2 linked regions of the Homo sapiens genome follow. The protein of the gene in region 1 purifies or fractionates together with the protein of each later gene. This does not show direct contact. Each region holds a gene or a part of one and is shown in the gene's direction. Other genes may lie near its edges.

Region 1 (8,875 bases):
CCTGGGCATCAGAGTAAGACTCTGTCTCAAAACAAAATAAAACAATAGGCCGGGCACGGTGGCTCACACCTGTAATCCCAGCACTTTGGGAGGCCGAGGTGGGCAGATCACGAGGTCAGGAGATCGAGACCATCCTGGCTAACACGGTGAAACCCCGTCTCTGCTAAAAATCCAAAAAAAAATGGCTGGGCGCCATGGCAGGCGGCTGCAGTCCCAGCTACCCGGGAGCCTGAGGCAGGAGAATGGCGTGAACCCAGGAGGCGGAGCTTGCAGTGAGCAGAGATCGCGTCACTGCACTCCAACCTGGGCAACAGAGTGACACTCTGCCTCAAAAATAAATAAATAAATAGGCCGGGTGCGGTGGCTTACGCCTGTAACCCAGCACTCTGGGAGGCTGAGGCAGGTGGATCACCTTAGGTCAGGAGTTCAAGACCAGCCTGACCAGCATGGAGAAACCCCATCTCTCCTAAAAATACAAAATTAGCCAGGTGTGGTGGCACATGCCTGTAATCCCAGCTACTCCGGAGGCTGAGGCAGGAGAATTGCTTGAGCCCGGGAGGTGGAGATTGTGGTGAGCCGAGATCGTGCCATTGCACTCCAGCCTGGGCAACAAGAGCAAAATTCCATCTCAGAAAATAAATAAATAAATAAACAAATAAAACAAAACAATAAAATAAAAAGAAATTGGAAAAGAAGAAGTCAAATTGTCTCTCTTTGCAGACATGATCTTATGTATAGAAAAGCCTAAACAATCCACTGAAAAAACTCCTAGAACTGATAAACAAATTCAGTGAAGTTGCAAGATACAAAAATCAACATATGAAAATCAGTAGCATTTCTATACACCAATAATAAAATAGAAAAGAAATCAAGAAAGTGATCCCATTTACAAGAGCTACAAAAAATAAAGTCCCAAGGAATAAAAGTTAGCCAAGGAAGTGAAGGACCTCTACAACAAAAACTACAAAACACTGATGAAGGAAATTGGAAAGGTCACAAAAAAGTGGAAAGACATCCCATGCTCATGGATTGGAAAAATTAATATTGTTAAAATGGCCATACTACGGCTAGGCACGATGATTCGTGCCTATAATCCCAGCACTGTGGGAGGCCTAGGAGGGAGGATCACTTGAGCCTAGGAGTTCAAGACAAGCCTGAGCAACATAACGAGACACAACAAAAAAATTTTAAAAATTAGCCAGGCATGGTGGTACACACCTTGCAGTCCCAGCTACTCAGGAGGCTGAGGCAGGAGGATTGCTTGAGCCCAGGAGTTCAAGGTTACAGTGAGCTATGATTGTGCCTCTGCACTCCAGCCTGGGCAACAGAGCGAGACCCTGCCTGAAAAATAAATAAATAAATTTTTAAAATAAGAAATAAAAATAAAATTAAATTTAAAAGGCCATACTACCCAAAGCAATCTACAGATTCAGCGCAATCCCTATCAAAATAGCAACGACACTCTTCACAGAAACAGAAAAAACAATCCTAAAATTTGTATAGAATCACAAAAGACTCCAAATAGCCAAAGCAATACTAAGCAAAAAGAATAGAGCTGGAGGCATCACCCTACCTGAGTTCGAAATATACTACAGGGTGGGCAAGCACATGCCTGTAATCCCAACACTTTTGGAGGCCAACGTGGGTGGATCACTTGAGCAGAGGAGTTTGAGACCAGCCTGGACAACATGGAGAAACCCCATCTCTACCAAAAAAAAAATAGTAGCCAGGCATTATGGCACACACCTATAGTCCCAGCTACTTCAGAGGCTGAGGTGGGAGAATCACTTGAGTCCAGGAGGTGGAGGCTGCAGTGAGCTGAAATTGCTACTGTACTCCAACCTGGGACATAGAGCAAGACCCTGCCCCAAATATAAATATAAATATTATACACTACAAAGCTATAGTAACAAAACAGCATGGTATTGGTATAAAAACAGACACAGACCAATGGAAAAAAATGGAGAACCCAGAAATAAATCTATGTACTTACCACAAACTGATTTTTTGACAAAGGCACCAAGAACATACACTGGGAAAAGGACATCTTCTTTAATAAATGGTGCTGGGAAAACTGGATATTGATAAGAAGAAGAAAAGTAGACCCCATCTGTCATCACATACAAAAATCAATTCAAAATGGATTAAAGACTTAAACATAAGGCCTGAAACTATAAAACTACTAGAAGAAATCCTAGGGGAAATGCTTCAGGACATGGGTCTAGGCAAAGATTTTATGGCTAAGACTTCAAAAGCACAGGCAACAAAAACAAAAATAGACAAATAAGACTATATTAAACCAAAAACGTCTGCACCGCAAAGAAACAGTCAACAGAGTTAAGAGACAACCTGCAGAATGGGAGAAAATATTTGCAAATTATTCATCTAACAAGGGACTAATATCCAGAATATACAAGGAATACAAATGACTCAACAGCAAAAAACAAACATAATATTAAGTGGGCAAAGGACATGAATAGACATTTCTCAAAAGAAAACAAATGGCCAACAGGCATACGAAAAAATGCTCAGCTGGGTGCAGTGGCTCACACCTGTAGTCCCAACACTTTGGGAGGCTGAGGTGGGCGGATCACAAGGTCAAGAGATCGAGACCATCCTGGCCAACAGGGTGAAACCCAGTCCCTACTAAAAATACAAAAATTAGCTGGGCATGGTGGCAAGCACCTGTAGTCACAGCTACTCGGGAGGCTGAGGCAGAATTGCTTGAACCCATGAAGCAGAGGTTGCAGTGAGTCAAGATCATACCACTGCTCTCCAGCCTGGTGACAGAGCGGGACTCCGTCTCAAAAAAAAAAAAAAAAAAAAAAAAAAAAAAAAAAAAAAAAGCTCAACATCACTAATCATCAGAGAAATGCAAATCAAAACCACAATGAGATATCATCTCACCTCAGTTAGAATGGCTGTTATCAAAAAGACAAATGCTGGCGAGGATGTGCAGAAAAGGGAACTCATACACTGTTGTTGGGAATTAAGTTAATACAGCCATTATGGAAAGTAGTATGGAGGTTTCTCAAAAAACTAAAAATTGAACTATCACATGATTCAAACAGTTCCACTACTGGGATAAATAACCCTAGAAATCCTGATTCCTAGGGAATCGGTACCTGATTTCCTTTCCTTTGGATAAATAATCCAGGAGTGGGATTGCTGGATCATATGGTAGTCCTATTTTTAGTTTTTTGAGAAATCTCCTTACTTCTCTCCGTAATGGAAATCAGTATCCAAATGAAAGGAGGGATATCTGCACGCCCTTGTTTACTGCAGCACTATTCCAAGAGCCAAGATATGGAATCAACCTAAGTGTCCATCAACAGGTGAATGGAAAAAGAAAATGTGGTACCTATACACAATGGAATATATCCAGCCATAAAAAAAATATGGAAGCCCTGTCATTTGCAGCAATATGGGTGGAACTGGAGGTCATTATGTTATGTGAAACAAGCCAGACACAAAAAGACAAATTTCACATGTTCTCACTCATGTGAGAGCTAAAAAAAAAAAAAAAAAAAAAAAAAAAAAAAAAAAAAAAGTAGAATTAATGGGAGTAGAGAGTAGAATGATGGTTACTAGAGGCTGGGAAGTGGGGGTGGGGGGAGGATGAACAGAGGTTGATTAATGGGTACAAACATACTGTTTGATGGAAATAAGATAAGTTGAAATAAGAAATAAGTTGATAGTACAGTAGGGTGACTATAGTTAACAATAATTTATTGTATATTTCAAAATAGCTAGAAGAGAAGATTTGAAATGTTTCCAACACAAAGAAATGATAAATGTTTAGCCGGGCCCAGTGGCTCATGCCTGTAATCCCAGCACTTTGGGAGGCCTAGGCAGGAGGATCACTGAGGTCAGGAGTTCGAGACCAACCTGGCCAACATGGTGAAACCCCATCTCTAGTAAAAATATGAAAATTAGCTGGGCATGGTGGTAAGCACCTATAAACCCAGCTACTTGGGAGGCTGAGGCAGGAGAATCGCTTGAACATGGGAGGCAGAGGTTATAGTGAGCTGAGATGGCACCACCGCACTCCAGCCTGGGTGATGAGAGTGAAACGCCATCTCCAAAAAAAAAAAAAAAAGAAAAGAAATAATGTTGAAGGTACCCCAGTTACCCTGATTTGCTCATTACACATTGTGTGCAAGTATAAAAATATCATATGTACCCCATAAATATGTACAATTAATATGTATCAGTTTAAAAAGTTAATGACGATGGTACCAATATTATAGCCTCATTTAGCAGATGAGGAAACTGAGGCACTGAGCTATGAATTAACACACCTGAAATCACAGAGCACAGTCCAGACTTGAACCCAGACTGTCCAGTTCCAGTGTCCCAGCTCTAGGTCATGACCTCAGGGTCATCCCCCTCCCCTGCCTCCATTTAGCCTTCACTGTGACCCCCAGCTGCAGCCTGACATCAGTGTGATTATTCACGGGGTGGGTAGCCTGGGGCCACTGAAGGCCGGTTTGCTTTGAGCACTGCTCTCCAATGAGGCTGGAAGCCCTTTGAGGGGCTGTCGTATTCACCGCGGGATGCCCAGGTCCCGCCCAATTGGCGGAATCACCGTTTGTTGAGTGAATTCTTGAACGTCTGTGCATGGCATGCATGTGCCTGCCATTTGCTCATCTTTACCACACACTTGGCTGCAATGGCTGTCACCTTCAATAGGCGCCTTGCCAGGGACAGAGAGCTCAGGGACAGCCAAGGAGACTGGAACTGCTCAGCTGGGGATAGGGAGCCTAGGGGGCCCTGGCAGGCCCCCAAGCCTCTCCTGGGTTGTCCTGGCCAATTCACAGGGAGGCTGACCCCAGCTTCCAGGAATAAAAGATTCTGACCTCTCCGTGGCAATGAGCCCCTGTCCCAGGGGTGTGCGGGAGATCCCTGGTTATCTGAGGTGTCTCCAGGGTATATCCGCTGAAACCCCACTTCCTCTTCACTGCCCACTGAGCCTGGGACCAGCTGCTGGTCACGTGCTTGGCCCTGTAGCGTCGCTAGCCGTGCTCCTCAGTGTGCTCCCCGCCCCCTGCCGCGGCGCCTCGCCTCCCGGCTCACCTCCCCACCCCACCTGCCCGCTGCGGCTCTCCGCGGGAGATCTCACCGTTCTGGAGACAGGGCTCGCTCGCTCTCACGGTAGGCTGGAAGAACGGGCTGTCTGGGCCTTAGGAAAGGCCCATGCTGTATAAGGCATGGGGAAAGGAAAGGAAGAAAGGCAACGAACAAGAAGGAGGGCTTCCAACTGCAGCTTCCTGCCGGCTGCAGGCCTCCCTTCCTAAGCTGAGCTGAGGCTTCCTCTCCATGGGCTGGGGAGGGGGCGCCAGGAGGCCTCGGCGGGTCCGCAATTGGCCGGGACAGCTTCTCACGAAAGGTCCTGGGCCGGCATCATCAGCCTCACCTGGGAACTGGTTAGAACTACAAATTCCCTCGGCCCCACCCAGACCGACGCCAAGGGCAGCTGTGGAGTGGGGCGCGGCAATGCGCCCCTTAACAGCCCTCCAGGTGATTCTGCCGCGCAGAGGAGGAAAGAATGGGAGAAGGGAAGGGGAGAGGGAGGCGGCTTCTTTGCGACTAATTGGACACCTGCCCTTCCCCTTCCCAGGCTTCTTAGCCCGGGCTTGGACAGCCGCCTTCCGGCCAGAGGGGATGAGGTTGCGCTGCGCTCCGGGAGCGCCGATGGCGTGACTGGCCCCGCGCGGAGCAGCGACAGTAAGGCTGTGTGGGGGGAGCTGGGACCTAAGCCGCGCGCACACCCCTTTCTCTGCGTCTGGTGGAGGTGCACAGAGGCTTTTGAGTCAGGCCCAAGCGCAGCCAGGTGACCTCCCCGCGGCCTTTCAAGCCTGAGCTCGGTGGACAGCTCCCTCTCCCGTGAGTCCCGCTGTCCTGTACGCGCCCGGTCGAGCCCCGGGCTGCGCACCCCGCTAGGAGGTGGGTACTCGTCCTCCAGGAGTTGCCGGTGAGCCCTTGACCGTGGCAGGTCCCCTCCAGCCGCGAGCGACCCCTCAGTACCTGCCGATGCCTGCTGGTCTCTGGCATCCTCCAGTCGAGGGTCAGGGTCAGGGAGCAAGGCCTCACGCGGGCGCCCTCCTTGCAGCTGCCCGGCCAGCCCGCTTCTCTGCCCGGAGCCATGAATCTCAGTAGCGCCAGTAGCACGGAGGAAAAGGCAGTGACGACCGTGCTCTGGGGTGAGTGGGGACTCAGGCTCCTTCCCAGAGACACGCCCCACCTCCGGTGCGCGGCAGCTTGGGGCGCAGGTGAGCCCCTCCTTTGGGAACGAATGGAGGGCCCCACTTCCCTCCCTTTCTCCTCCGCAGGCTGCGAGCTCAGTCAGGAGAGGCGGACTTGGACCTTCAGACCCCAGCTGGAGGGGAAGCAGAGCTGCAGGCTGTTGCTTCATACGGTAGGTGTTCCCAAAAGAGGGGAGGAAGATGGTGTCCGGGAACTTTCTGGTCCCAACGGAGGGCTATGGATTTCTCCCGTCGGCCCTCAGGGTGATGAGGGGCCTCTATTTTCAACCCCGCTCAGATTTGCTTGGGGGAGAAAGCCAAAGAGGAGATGCATCGCGTGGAGATCCTGCCCCCAGCAAACCAGGAGGACAAGAAGATGCAGCCGGTCACCATTGCCTCACTCCAGGCCTCAGTCCTCCCCATGGTGCGCATTTCCCTGCTGGCTGGAAGACTGCTGTCAGCCTCACCCTCACCCTTGGGTGGGGATGGACACACACGAGGGTGCATTCACCCTACAGAAATGAGCCATGCTAGGGAGGTAGCACAGCCCATGCAGAAAGCCGGGGTCCAGCCCAGCTCACCCCTTCCTAGAGCTGTGTGACCTTGGGCCAGTTAAGCTGTCTGCAAAAATTACACTTTAAACCAGGGGTCCCCAACTGCCGGGTCAAGGACCAGAACTCGTCCTGTTAGGAACCAGGCAGCACAGCAGGAGGTGAGCAGCCAGCTAGCCAGCATTACCCCTGAGCCCTGCCTCCCGTCAGATCAGAGCGGCATTAGATTCTCAGAGGAGCATGAACCCTATGGTAAGCTGTGCGTGCGAGGGGTCTAGGTTGCATGCTTCTTATGAGAATCGAATGCCTGATCTGAGGTGGAGCAGTTTCATCCCAAAACCACCCCCCACTCCCACCCCATCCATGCAAAAATTGTCTTCCAGGAAACCATTCCCTGGTTCCACAATGATTGGAGACTGCTGCTTTAAACCATTCACTGCTAGTGACAGGAACATGGTCGATCTACATATTGGTTGTGCATCCAGAAATTCTCTAGTTTCTAATAACTTAAGTTTTCTATGCATATAATAATTGTGAATAATGGCAGTTCTTGCCTTTTTTTTTTTTTTTTTTGAGATGGAGTTTCACTCTGTCACCCAGGCTGGAGTGCAGTGGTGCAATCTCAGCTCACTGCAATTTCTGCCTCCCAGGTTCAAGCAATTCTAGTGCCTCAGCCTTCGGAGTAGCTGGGATTACAGGTGTGCACCACCATGCCTGGCTAATTTTTGTATTTTTAGTAGAGACAGGGTTTCACAATGTTGCCCAGGCTAGTCTCGAACTCCTGACCTCAGGTGATTCGCCCGCCTTGGCCTCCCGAAGTGCTGGGATTACAGGCGTGAGTCACCACGCCAGGTCTTTTTTCTTTCTTTCTTTCTTTTAATCCTACTGCACTGGCTAGGCCCTGCAGTGGAATATTGGGTGAACATGAGATCAGGTCTGACATCCTTATTTCCTTCTTGTTTTTTAAAAAAGAAGCATTTGGTAAGTACATTTTGTCAGGTTAAGGAAGTCCCCATCTAAAACCCTCTGCTTTTAAAAAATTGCTTTGCTTTGAAATCACTAGAGGGGGTTAAATTTTACCAAATGCTTTTCTATTCATATGATTCTAGGTTCTTTAGTCCACGTGGTAAATTATATGAAGATAATAATATCTGAGTTCCTTTGCCATCCTGGGATAAATACTACTGGTCATGTTACAAATTCTAGATTTGTTTTACTCATATATTGAGCCCTTTTTTTTACCTGTATACATGTGAGGTTGGCCTATAAGTGATAGTATTTAGGTGTTCAGGACATGCTAGCCTCATGCACTGAGGGTGGAGGGTTCTCTCCTATTCCCTGGAACAGTGAATGGAAGACTAGGATCAGCTGTCCTTGGAGGTTTGGGAGACCCCTCTGTCAAACTGCCCTCAGACTTTCCTGTTCTATTTACACATACTTTGCAGGCGATCTCATCCTTTCCTGTGGTTTTCAAGACCATCTAAACAAATGAAGACTCAGGAACTTATTTCTGTAAACTCAACCTCTCTTGAGCTCCAAGTCCTATATCCAACTAAATGGCTTTGATAGATATCTAATAAATATCCCAAATTTAACATGTCTAAATCCACATATTCAATTTTTATCTCTAATCCACCCGCCTCCCCTTCAACCTGATTTTCTCTCAGAAAACAGCTGTTTTTCCAGTTAGCCAAGACAAAGCTCTTTTTTTTTTTTTTTCCCCTGAGATGGAGTTTCACTCTTATCACCCAGGCTGGAGTGCAATGGTGCGCTCTCGGCTCACTGCAACCTCCGCATCCCATGTTCGAGTGATTCTCCCATCTCAGCCTCCCAAGTAGCTGGGATTACAGGCATGTTCCACTACGCCAGGCTAATTTTTGTAATTTTAGTAGAGATGGGTTTTTGCCATGTTGGTCAGGCTGGTCTCGAACTCCTGACCTCAGGTGATATACCCGCCTTGGCCTCCCAAAGTGCTGGATTTACAGGCATGAGCCACCACACCCAGCCAAATCCTCTTTTTTCCCACACCCATATCTGATCTACCAGCAGTCCTGTTGTCTCTGCCCCCATCTTATACCC
Region 2 (5,498 bases), on another chromosome or scaffold:
GGCAGGCGGATCACGAGGTCAGGAGATCGACACCATCCTGGCTAACATGGTGAAACCCCGTCTCTACTAAAAATACAAAAAAATTAGCTGGGTGTGGTGGCGGGCACCTGTAGTCCCAGCTACTTGGGAGGCTGAGGATGGAGAATGGCATGAACCCAGAAGGCAAAGCTTGCAGTGAGCCGAGATCATGCCACTGCACTCCAGCCTGGGCGACAGAGCGAAACTCCATCTCAAAAAAAAAAAAAAAAAAGTAGCATTGTTTTTCCTAATGTAAACAACTTTTTTTTTTTTTTTTTTTTGAGACGGAGTCTCACTCTGTCACCCTGGCTGGAGTGCAGTGGTGCGATCTCAGCTCACTGCAACCTCCACCTCCCATATTTAAGTGATTCTCCTGCCTCAGCCTCCCAAGTAGCTGGGATTACAGGCGTGCGCCACCACGCCCAGTTAATTTTTTTGTATTTTTAGTAGAGACGGGGTTTCACCATGTTGGCCAGGCTGGTCTCGAACTCCTGATCTCAAGTGATCTGCCCCCCGCCCCACCTTGGTCTCCCAAAGTGTTGGGATTACAGGCGTGAGCTACTGCACCTGGCCCTAATTTAAACAATTTTCATCAGCCTGTTCTCTATGAAAATCAGGTTCCCACCCCATCCCCTAGGAATCTGTCAGTTACAGTTCAGAAACCTGCATTGAAATTCCAGCCGAGGACAGTATTTCTTCCCACTCTATTTGTCCCCTCTCATCTGTGGAAGCTCAGCAGCATCACAACACGTGACTTAAAAGCTTTCCTTGTGCCGTTTGAGAGAATAAAACTTTTTCCCAGAAGACAATACACCCATTAAAAATAGTAAGCCTGCTGGTAAGGTTATTTGGATGGCACTTTATATCTGCAGAGTACTCTACATGTAAATTTCTATCAGTAATCAAATGATTAGTAGAGTACAGGCAGCCATTTTCCTCTTTTTTGAATCCTATTAGAAGCAGAAAGAGAAGGTATGAAATGTACTCTACTAGATAGATCCATCGCCACGCTGGTCTCCCAAACATCTCCAAGCATTGAATTCCTCAGGTGTCAGTTGGCCCAGTGAATCACCCAGGTGCTAAATCAAATGGCTTCAGTTCAAGGCGTTCCTTGAAAGGAAAGTGTTAGAACTCAGGAAATCCGCCTTCGCAGTGGGCTCCAGGCCTTCTCTCCCAGGCTCGAGGTGGAAGGCGCTCTTGGGTGCTGGGTGTGCCAAGTGGTCACCTCGTGTGCCCCTGTCTTCCCTGCAGTGGCCGACATCCCCGGCATCATACGAGGCGCCCACCAGAACAGGGGTCTGGGGTCCGCCTTCCTCAGGCACATCGAGCGCTGCCGCTTTCTCTTGTTCGTGGTGGATCTTTCTCAGCCTGAGCCGTGGACTCAAGTTGACGATTTAAAATATGAACTGGAGATGTATGAAAAGGGCCTGTCTGCGAGGCCCCACGCAATCGTCGCAAACAAGATTGACCTCCCTGAAGCCCAAGCCAATCTGTCCCAGCTCCGGGATCACTTGGGACAGGAGGTCATCGTGCTGTCGGCGTTGACCGGCGAGAACCTGGAGCAGCTGCTGTTGCACCTGAAGGTGCTGTATGACGCCTACGCGGAGGCCGAGCTGGGCCAGGGCCGCCAGCCGCTCAGGTGGTAGCCACGCCAGAGCGGGGTCGCCTCTGGGCCTCTGTCTGAGCAAACCTGGGTGTGAATTCGGTGGTTTTGAATGCATAAAGTGCCTTGTGGACACGGGGGAGTTGTGGTGCTTCTGGGTCTCTGGGCCCCGCCTGCTGGCCTGAGATGCCCTCATGTTGGGAAGCATTCCGTGCCCCCTACCCCGCCTGCCCTCCGTATTTCCTGCACCTGTCAGCCTGCACCGACTGATGAGCCAGTTGCTCATTTGTGCTGATTAACACCCCTAATAAGGGGTTGGGGTGCCCATAACGGGGTGGCCCTGCCGCTGACTCAGGTCTCCGCCATGCACGCGTGGACTCTCGGATGAGCTCAGCAGAACCGCACAGCCAGAGCCCCAGGTCAGAAGTGCAGACCAGGGTTCTCAGCACAGTGCCCGTCGTGCTTCCATGGCTTGCTACGGAGAGAGACCTCTGGATCCACACTGGGGCTGCGTCTGGCCCGTTGTCCAGCAGCCCTGCGGTACCGCAAGCCCAGGCACCAGTGTCTCGGGGGGCCTCACTGCTGCGCAAGGGGTGGGGCCGAGGATGCAAGTCCAGGCAGAGCGGCGCAGGCAGCTGTGAGCTTTTCTCCATCAGCCGTCTGAGAAGAGCAGTGAGGCCAGCTGCTTCCTGTCCTTCAGAACACTTCTCTGTGCTCAGTGGGAGCCAGGAAGCCTCAGGCTTCACGACTGAATGCACCCAATATCCGACCTGGCTGCGTGTTTCTGGCTGGGCTGCCGTGTGCACAGCAAGTTAACTAGAGGGGCTGTGGGCCATGGAACTGTCAGCGTTATTCTCAGAAGGCGGCCGTGGCATGGGCAGGGTATAGTGAGGAGTGGAAGGAGACGTGTGCCTGGTAATATGGGGCGGAATTTCCACTCAGCTCCATTTGCTGGGGATTTAAAGAGAACCCTTGTGCTACGCCAGGCAGTTACCGAGCCGAAGGGAGATGATGGGCCTTCGCCCCTCAGTGGGATGGCAGCTGAGGGGGCCCTGCATTTGACCGTCGAGACTGCAGCAGCGCCTTTCCTGTCTGTGGTTTAAGTCTTTGCAGTCAAGTACTGATGCATCCAAGCCAGGCCCATGCCTGGTGTCTCCCTGACTGCAGAGGAGCCCCAGGGCAAGGACAGCTCAGCTGCTGGCAGCCTGCCTGGCCCATAGACATCCCCCAAGTAGTCTCAGGCCTCTGACATGTCCCTGAGGGGCCCCTAAGAAAGAAAGTGGAGGGGACACTCCAGAGGCTGTCGTGGGAGGATCATGTGAGCCTGGGAGGTCAAGGCTGCAGTGAGCCGTGATTGCACCACTGCACTCCAGCCTGAGTGACAGAGCGAGACCCTGTCTCAAAAAACAAACAAACAAACAAACAAAAACAGAACATTCTGGGCACGGTGGCTCATGCCTGTAGTCCCAGCACTTTGGGAGGCCGAGGCTGGTGGATCACAAGGTCAGGAGATTGAGACCATCCTGGCTAACACAGTGAAACCCCGTCTCTACTAAAAATACAAAAAAATTAGCCAGGCGTGGTGGCGGTCACCTGTAGTCCCAGCTACTCGGGAGGCTGAAGCAGGAGAATGGCGTGAACCTGGGAGGCGGAGCTTGCAGTGAGCCGAGATCACACCACTGCACTCCAGCCTGAGCGACAGAGCAAGACTCCATCTCAAAAAAAAAAAAAAAGTGGAGGGGACAAAGAAGCAGAGAAGGATGATCAGAAGGGGACCCCCAGCCCTTGGAGGAGAGACGGCAGCCTCAGGTGAGATGAGCCGCAAGGGTCCGGGGCCGCGTCTCTGCACGCTGGGGTGGGGCGCGCTTTGCACAGCAGGCCGGTGCCTGGGCTTTCAGGAGCAATTCCGTTTTGATCTCACATCAAATCTGCAGCTAGAACATGACAGTCCTTTTACCCGAAGCTTTATTTTAATGTCTTATAATTTCAAAGGTCCTTCTATCCTAGAAACCAGAGATGGGTTTTGCATCTATTTGCTTTTTCTTTCAGGCCGCCACAAAGGATTTTGTGGAGTCGCCCCAGGCCTGACGGCGTTAATTATCCCTGGCTTTCATCTTGATGCTCTTGCAGGGGAGGCTCAAGATGCCTTGTGGCTCGACCCCTGCACGGAGCCCCCAGCCCAGCCTCCCCGTGGGTTGAAACCTTGATCTGGGCCTGACTGTGGCTGCTCTGGGGACATGCCCTCGTCCTTTGCTGAAGCTGAGGCTCCAGAGGGGGAGTCACTGCCACGAAGGTTGCCCAGAACTTTCCTTGCTGCAAAAAGCCCCAAGACTTCTCCCTGCCACACACACAGCTTTTGCCATCGCGTTCTAAAAGCTGACAGCTTTCTCTCCAACACTGTTCTCCCTGAGTAGGGTAAAGCTACACTTGGCTTCCCCAGTTTCCTGTTTCCTGCCTAGAAACAAATTTTTGTCAGTCTGCTTTTCAAATGGGATATATGATTCACATACCATAAAATTCACCACTTTATATAATTCAGTGGTTTTTTTGTATGTTCAGAAGGTTGTGCAACTGTCAAACTGCAAATTCCAGAACGTTTTCATCACCCCGAAAACAGACCCTGTGCCCGTTAGCGTGAACCCGCCTTCCCCCTCCCCCGGGCACCCACCCGTCTACCTTCTGTCCCCAGGGACCTGCCTTCCAGACAGATCCTGTAATTGGAGTGTACACTATGTGGCCGTCTGTGCGGGTCTTTAGTAGCCATGCCTGAGGCGGCCGACACCGCAGTCTTTAGTTACGGAAGGGACCGCGGGTGCAGGCCAACCCCCCCACAGTCAGCATGTGTGGGCTGCCTTGGACACAGGGTCTCTGTGTATCCCCAGCAGCCTCAGAACACCTGACCCAGAGACGGCGTCAGTAAGCGCTGGCAGGTGCACGGAGGATGGCGCTGGCATGAGGAGCCTTCAGGCTGCTCCTAGTTTTAAACTATTTTTACTTTTGTTTTTATTTTTTTAAGACAGAGTCTCACTCTTTCGCCCAGGCTAGAGTGCAGTGGTGCGATCTCGGCTCACTGCAACCTCTGCCTCCTGGGTTCAAGCGATTCTCCTGCCTTAGCCTCCCAAGTAGCTGGGATTACAGCCTGCACCACCACGCCTGGCTGATTTTTGTATTTTTAGTAGAGACAAGGTTTCACCATGTTGGCCAGGCTGGTCTCGAACCCCTGACCTCAGGTGATCTGCCCACTTTGGCCTCCCAAAGTGCCGGGATTACCGGCATGAGCCACTGCGCCTGGCCTGAAACTCAGTGTGTGTGTGTGTGTGTGTGTGTGTGTGTGTGTGTGTGTGTGTGTGTGTGTGTGAGAGAGAGAGAGAGAGAGAGAGAGAGAGAGAGAGAGATGGAGTCTCACTCTGTCACCCAGGCTGGAGTGCAGTGGCGCGATCTCCACTCACTGCAACCTCCGACTCCTGGGTTCAAGCAGTTCTCCTGCCGCAGCCCAGGTGGGGTGGAGTCTGGGTGCCCTGGGGCCCTGCCACCTTCCACTTGGACACGGGCGAGGAGGGGTTTGCCCTGAGCATCCCCTGTAGAAGCCCAGCTCCACAGCAGCGCTGTAGGAAAACGTAGTGTGTCCATTTGAAAATGAAGTTTTATCTATTCCTTATTAGTCTCCTGGGGCTGCTATGACAAAGTGCCACAAACCGGGTGACTTAACAGAAGTTGGCCGAGCATGGGGGCTTACACCTGTCATCTAGCGCTGTGGGAGGCCGAGGCGGCCGGATCACCTGGGGTCAGGAGTTTAGGACCAGCCTGGCCAACATGGTGAAACCCCATCTCTACTAAAAAATATGTAAAAATTAGCTAGGGGTGGTGGCCCATACCT

Evidence for each region.
Region 2: the proteins of NPM2 (region 1) and MTG2 purify together in Homo sapiens (affinity purification with mass spectrometry; 2 studies listed by BioGRID and IntAct, with this or other methods). This does not show direct contact.

The regions. Positions count from the first base shown.
Region 1 is NC_000008.11:22,019,104-22,027,978, forward strand, and holds the start of NPM2 (nucleoplasmin-2), read left to right. Parts: upstream 1-5,030; 5' UTR 5,031-5,520; intron 5,521-5,620; 5' UTR 5,621-5,727; exon of another isoform or gene 5,728-6,112; 5' UTR 6,113-6,145; coding exon 6,146-6,203; intron 6,204-6,332; coding exon 6,333-6,418; intron 6,419-6,543; coding exon 6,544-6,669; intron 6,670-8,875. UniProt on the Homo sapiens protein: Core histones chaperone involved in chromatin reprogramming, specially during fertilization and early embryonic development. Probably involved in sperm DNA decondensation during fertilization.
Region 2 is NC_000020.11:62,199,414-62,204,911, forward strand, and holds the end of MTG2 (mitochondrial ribosome-associated GTPase 2), read left to right. Parts: intron 1-1,269; coding exon 1,270-1,664; 3' UTR 1,665-3,670; coding exon of another isoform or gene 3,671-3,828; 3' UTR 3,829-4,155; downstream 4,156-5,498. UniProt on the Homo sapiens protein: Plays a role in the regulation of the mitochondrial ribosome assembly and of translational activity. Displays GTPase activity. Involved in the ribosome maturation process.